Homo sapiens: one gene and its partner. The protein of the gene in region 1 interacts with the protein of each later gene in a pairwise test. Each region holds a gene or a part of one and is shown on either strand. Other genes may lie near its edges. The genes, in order: WDR7 and FRMD6.

Region 1 (3,827 bases):
ATGGAAACTACACATATTAAGCATAACCAATCGTTTGACTTTACTTACTGAATTTTTTTTGCTTTTGAGACAGGGTCTCGCCATGTTGCCCAGGCTGGAGTGCAGTGGCACGATCACAGCTCACTGCAGCCTCCACCTCCCAGCTCAAAGGATCTTCCCACTTCAGCCTCCCAAGTAGCTGGGACTACAGGCGTGTACCACCACACCATGCTAATTTTTTTTTTTGTAGAGATGGGGTCTCACTATGTCGCCCAGACTAAAATTTTTAATTGATAAACTATATATTTAACAAGGAAAAATTGCTACAGCAGCTGTAATAACCAATATTCTACATTTCAACACACCACAAAATACACATTTTTAATTTAAAACGTATTAGGGAGCTGATATTTAAAGAAAATGATTTTTTTTTTGGTTTTGCTTATGTATATTTTTTATACAAGTCATTATTCCTTAGGTTAATTGGACATGACTATCTAGGTTGAAGAGCAGTAAGTGGAAGTTTGAATAAAGAACAGACAGGCTAAAGATGATCTTAATTGTACATAGATATACAAATTCTATATATTCAAAATATTCATGGAAAGAACAATTCCCTTCCCCTAGCCACCCGGCCACATAAACGTGAGACGTAATGTTCAGAATGATAAAGCCATGGAAACCTAGAACATCAATTAAAAAAAAAAAAAACAAAAAAAACTCTGCTTTCAAAGCCAAAGCTTCTTTCTTACTGCTCAATATAGAGTTGAAAACCCAGTACTAAGTGCTGTTGTACTTCAACATTAAGTGGATATTAAGCACGTTTTCAGAAATCACAATAAACTTTTATTTTTATAGAGAAAAAATGTTTTATTCTTTATTTCTAGTTTCTAATGATTTAAAATGCTACATGATTTTGTGGAGGTATTGCAATGCCTTGTTCAACAAAGGAACTATTATTACTCAGCATTATTACATAACTATGTGTGCTCTTCTAAAAATATATCTGTCACTATGTTTATAATTGCATGATAGTATGTAAAATAATTTACACCATCAATATGAACTTCATCAAAAAGTCAATTTCAATACGCAATTAGCATAAGATCACTTGTACTCTTAGAAAAACGAATGTTATTTCATAGGCATATTATATGTTTTTAAACAAGCAGATTTTGAAATGTCCTTATAACTGACCATCTCAAAATGTTTTACATTTAACACAGTGCTTTGAATTGTATCAAATTTTTTAAACCTATCACAAGACAATAAATACAGTTGTAGAAGTTTTTCAATGTAACTTTCAATTATAAATGACACCTCAAGAATTTTACCTCTTTATCTTTTCGATCCAAGAGGATATGTTGTACAGGAGGAATTAAATTTTCAACTGCCTTCCCCACATCACTGCGGAATGAATCACTAGCTGGAAGGCAACTGAATATGGGAAAAATACAATATTCAATTAAAATACTGACATTAAATACTTTATAATTCCATATGACAAGGTTTGTTGGTATTGGACAAAAAGGGGATTTTTAAATTATAGTTAATTTAATGCAGGCATTAAATTAAATAATGTTATAAAAATATTGTCCTTCAAATAAAAATCCACCTAATTTTTGCACTTAGAAGTTAAATTGGAATTAAAAATCTAACTTAAGAAGTTCTGAAGTGTTTTATCAAAGTTAAATATTTATAATACATACATTTTCTTAAAGTCAGGTTGTACCCTAAATTCTGAATCTTTTACTTTTGATGACTGTCCTAATTTATTACTTGCTGCATACCTGGCAGGTAGTTTGTAAATATAACTTTGCCCATTTTCTGTCCAAATGATGACTTTATCTGATGAGACAAAGTCCCCCCCGGTCCATGTCTGTCCATTTTCACTAGGACCTGAACACAACAAGGAATAGTCTCCGGCATCGAACACCTGCAAGGAAGAAAGAAATTCACAATCTACTCCATATTGTTGTAAAAAGTAAGATCCAGTGACATTTCAAGTTTAAAAAAAAAGCCTGGAAATGTATTTAGAAAACTCAGTTTGCTGCATCAGATAAAGAAAGTTTGTCAATAAGCCCTGGGAGAGGTCACCTTCAATAGGGAAGACACAACTAGGCCCCTAGTTATGGGTAACCTCCCTGTGGACAGGGAATAGGCTATGACAAGTGGAGCGAGGGTGCTCCCCACTACAGGAACAGTTATCCTCAGACTTTCTATCTAGTGAAAGTATTCCATTAAAGAATTGCAAATAATAGGGAATCAACCTCAAATATACAGGCTTGAGCCCTGTTTTATTTCTATGTCTAGTAACAGCATTTTTTTTTTTTTCTTGAGACAAAGTCTTGCTCTGCCACCCAGGCTGAAGTGCAGTGGCACAATCAGAGCTCACTGCAACCTCAAACTCCTGGGCTCAAGTGATTCTCCTACCTCAGCCTAGCTGGGACTGTAAGAGCATGCCACCATGCCCTGCTAACTTTTTTATTTCTTATTTCTTGTAGAGACAGGGTCTCACCATGTTGCCCAGGCTGGTCTCGAACTCCTGGGCTCAAGTGATCCTCCCACCCTGGCCTCCTAAAGTGCTGGGATTACAGGCATGAGCCACCTTGCCTGGCCCAGTAGCAACATTTCTAACAATAAACTCTGGCATGGGAATAACTCATTATTATAAGGGAGTTACTTTGCTCTACATTATTTCATCAATGTTCTAAAATACTATAGTTAACAGGCTCAATTTTACTATGTAATAATTTTCACATATAAAATTCAAATCCCTATAATTTCACCAGCAGTAAAGGCTACTAACCTTATAGGGCTTTACATTTGCAAGGCACTGCAAAGTTTACAAAGTACCTTTACAATTATTATCTCATATGACCCTGAGAATCACCGCAGATGTTACTATTCCAGTTTACAGACAAGAAATGGACACAAATAAAGATTTGATCAATTGCTCAAAGTCATGTGTCCAGTAAGTGATAGAGCCAAAGCTAAAAACTCTGCTCTTATAATTCCTAGCAGAATTATTCTATCACTTTTAATATTTGAAAAAAGTACATTAAATGTTGTTAGAAAATTTTCCCAGGAGGAATGAGTAATTCCTCATTCCTCAATAGATCAGAGGTTTTATTTTACTTTTCTTTAAAGAAAACAATGAAGTTGCTTGTATACAGCCTTGAAGTTAGAACACATCCTAGCTGCATTTACCATGATTTCTTATAATATTTATCAGTGTATAACATCAGCACTACAATTATAGCCAAGAAAACTCCAAGAAAGAGTAAGGAAGGGAAACTAGCCCTCCAGCCCTATTATCTGTTAAAGCAAATCATACAACTATAAAAGTTAGAACAATATAGTATTAATTCATGAATGGGCAGACAAATCCAGAAGTCTGAAAACAGATTCCAATAATGTAGGAATATAGTATATTATCAAGGGACAACAGACGAATGAATTATTCAACAAATGGCATCAGGAACTGGGGGGGTCCATCTGACATAAAAATAAAATTGGATCTATATCTCACAATTTATACAAAATAAATTCCAGATTAAAGATTCAAAGGTATGTAAGACAAAACCATATAGGCCAGGCACGGTGGCTCATGCCTATAATCCCAGCCCTTTGGGAGGCCAAGGCAAGCTGACCACTTGATGCCAGGAGTTCAAGACCAGCCTGAGCAACAAGGTGAAACCCATCTCTACTAAAAATACAAAAATTGGTCAGGCGTGGTGGTCCATGCCTGTGATCCCAGCTACTTGGGAGGCTGAGGCAGGAGAATCCCTTGAACCTGAGAGGCAGAGGTTACAGTGAGCCGAGATTGCACCATTGCACTCCAGCCT
Region 2 (3,827 bases), on another chromosome or scaffold:
ATCTATATACTAGAGCCCTACCCCTACCAATAATAACTAGGGAAAAGCTCAAAGGCTCCCTAACCCTGACAAAGCCTGCTGAAGATATGCACGGCCTCCAACATTCCCATTTCCAAAGTCCCACTGCACATCCTACCAGGCATATTAAAATGTACCCACATCAATATTGAATATTTGTAATATACAAAACTGAATTACAAGTAATAGTTATCTTTCATAAATTTTTTATTCTCTTTGAACCCACTCCAATAAGGTTTTCATCTCCACTTCTCCAGTGACACAGCTCTTGTCATCATCACCAATGACTCCCCAGGTTGCTAAATCCAATGAGCAACTCTCAGTCTTCACCCTGCTTGACTTCTCAGCAACATGTGAGCTAACTGATCCACTCTTCTGCTGGAGATATTTTCTTTGACTACAAGGACATTTTTCTAATTTTCTTCCTATCCTCTGCTTGCTCCTTTTTAATTTTCTTTTACTGATTCCTCCTTATCAACACAACCTCTAAAAGATGAAGCATCCAGGTTTAGCCCAAGACCATCAACGCAATTAGAAAAACAACTCATAGTTCATTCTTCCATTGTGTAGATCAATAGAGTTCACAATATCTTCTAGTGATAACATTGTTACTCAAGGAATGGAGACACTTAATTGGGTTCACTATGTTGGAAAAACGTGCATAATTACTTTGGCTTAAAACACTTCTTGGATTATGTGTGTGATTTCTTCTTCTCTCTACAAACTGTAAATACTGATATGCCCCAAGGCTTGGTCCATAAGCCTGTTTCTCTGACTACACATATTCCCCAAGTGATCTCACCCAAATTCTGTTGGCAACTTCCAAATTTGTATCTCCAACTTAGACCTCTTCCCTAAATTCCAGATTCCTACAGCAACCAGTGATTCTATTAAAATGCAAATCAAATCCTCTCACTCCTCTGCACAAAACCTGGCTCCCCATTCCACTCACAGTCAAGTCCTGAATACAGTCCACACAAGCCAAACATGTGCTCTCCAAACATCTCTAACCTTATCTACTACTCCTTCTCTCCCTGCTCTCAGTGCTCCACCACTGTGGCCTTCTCCCTGCTCCTGGAACACATCAGGCATGCTTCCGCCTGATGCCTTCACTAGTCCCTCTGCTGCAACACTTTTCCCCCAGCTAGCTCTGTGTGGCTCTCTTCCTCCTTCAAGCCCTCTTCTCAGTGAGGCCTACCTTGACTATACTCCACCAAATCGCAAAGTCCCTGCCTCCCTCCCCCAGCACTCCTACTGTCCCTTAGCCTGCTCTACTTTTTCTTTTTCCCATCAGGCTTATTACCTTCCAAAATACTACAACACTTATTTTCTTATGCTGATTGCCTCCTAATAGAATATAAGGTCCACGAAGGCAGAATTTTTTTTTTTTTTTTTTCCTTTATTTTATTCACTGACATCTCTCAGACCTAGACCAGTGCCTGGCATATCCTAGGCATACATTATATTGAATGCATGAATTTAAACATTTAATAATTTTAATTTCATAGTTGTCTTTTAATATTTGAGATTTTTACCAGATCTTGCACATTCTGTTGCTACTAGAAAAGCCCCTTTTCTATGGGCTTGAAGGATAGAAAAATCTTAGCCTGACTTCACTAACCAGTATAAATCCAGTGGCCCCAGGAAGGCTGGGAACATCCTATGTGATCATCCTTGATTTTGGACCCTAAAACGAAAGCTCAACTTCACACTCATCTGGAAACATCTAATATCTTTTCAAACACATGTATTTTGTTCCCCCAACTAGACATGAAACACATTGACAGAAATTGCACAAAGTATTCAGCACAGTCCTGAATACTTCATAAAGACATAAAACCTGGCTTTTGATGGACTTAGTGAACATTTTTAAAGTGCTAAGTTTACTAAGCTCAAGATTTTACACACACAATCAAAACGGGGAACTGGGTTATCTGGACTAGGTCCCCCGCCCTTTAACAAACAGATCAGAATGATACAGCACGATTCTTCTAGAGGATCCTGTACCTTTTTTAGCTGAGCTCGTAATTAGGCTAGTTAGATGAAAATGTATCTTTCTAAGGTGTTTAACTGTGTCTTTCTTAAGTTTCTTTGAATGAATGGTTTAAAATCTCAAACTCTGGCCCTCATAACAGAAAATCACAAATGGTTCTGACCCACATTATATAAACTGTGCCAATGGTTAGGGGTTGGGAATAAAGAACTGCTTTATATCAATAATAGTGGCTTTCTTCAGAAGTACTCACATGAAGCCATACAGGGAACATGAGCAAAAGACATGGGCCAGTCAGTGGTACTCTTTAAAAGAACTTTGCACAACATCAGTCACCGTAAGGAGAATTTTAAAAATCTGCAGGCTGGCTTTTTTGACATATGGAAAGAAACAGTTATCTAGCAGACAGAAGCTGAAGGACTGAGACGGCTGGAAATTAGAAGAGAATTAAGAAAAATAACTCGATCAATTAGTAATCAGTGCAACAGGCCAGCTGCTCCTACTGCAGCAACACAGACTTGCCAGTATCTGTAACTGAGAAATACTAGGTTTTGTTGCCTGCTTAATGCCATCAAAAAACAAAGTTAAATCTCATGAAATGCTTATAAATGAAGGCTTGGGAACCTCCAATAAAACTATAAGTCCTTTTATACATCACTTCTTTTTGTCTTAAGCAGCAATAGCTAACATCACGTAAGACGTTTATTATATATCAAAGACCATGCCATTTGTTTTACACGTACCATTTCACTTAAAAATAAGAACAATCCTGTGGGATAGCTATTATAACTATCTCCCACTTTACTGATGAGGAAAAAGAGGTGTAGAGAGTTAAGTAACTTCCCCAAGGTTACACATGGGAGAATACTGGAGTCTGGATTTGGGCCCCAGGGAACTGATCTCGAAGACCTCATTCCTATCATTATATTTTACTATCCCTCTTCTATGCTGTCTTCAATACGGATTACGCTATTCTGTAGTAATTTCATGAGCAACTTGTCAGAGCTGTGGCCCTATGGTCAGCATATTTTTTACTTGTTAACATTACATATGCTAAATTTTTGCTGTGATAAGCAGTATCTTATTCGGGTAGGATATATAAATACCACATATTTATAAAATTCTCTAATTTTAACTTCTCTTCACCTTTTTAATGAGCTTAAGCTGAAGCTCTGAGTCTTTTCTTAAGTAATAAAACTGTCCTTTATTCTTTAGGGAAACATAAAATAAAATGTATACATGAATAGTTTTCCTTTGCAAGCACTTTGTTTTATCTGTTAGATCTCTCAGTGAAATCATAATCTTATGTTTTACAATAAGTACTTCCTGGAGACTGCCACAGATTTTAGCGTCAGAATTTCACTGCTGCTCTCAGTAGACAAAGATTGGATGTTTCCAGGGATCTTTAAGAAACGATAACTGGATGGGGGTGGAAGGAAGACACAAAAAGGGAGAAAAGAGGGAGAAGCATAAAGGCAGGAGAAGTCCAAAAACTGAATTTTTGAAACATTTTCTTAAGGATGAATTATTCCAAAAATATTGACAAAGCAGTCCTTTGAAATTAGGGTCCATCCTAGATCATTTATGGATCAACAAGAGTGAATCAAGAGGGACCTCAAGAGATCTCCTACTTGATACTTACAACCCAAAGTCTCATTAGGAAGCCCTAGAAGTGAGAGAGAGAGAGAAAAAAGGGAAAAGGCAAGCCCCAACAGAGCTCTGTATGGAGGGCAGAGGTACAGCAGGCTGAAAGAAGAAAAATTCTGCCTCATTGGGCTACAGATCCATTTCCTCTGGGCAGATCTGAGTCTATCTG

What was found.
Region 2: the proteins of WDR7 (region 1) and FRMD6 interact in a two-hybrid assay, tested with the Homo sapiens proteins (one large-scale study listed by BioGRID).

What each region holds. Positions count from the first base shown.
Region 1 is NC_000018.10:56,689,304-56,693,130, reverse strand, and holds part of WDR7 (WD repeat-containing protein 7), read right to left. Parts: intron 1,916-3,827; coding exon 1,770-1,915; intron 1,417-1,769; coding exon 1,314-1,416; intron 1-1,313.
Region 2 is NC_000014.9:51,658,201-51,662,027, reverse strand, and holds part of FRMD6 (FERM domain-containing protein 6), read right to left. Parts: intron 1-3,827.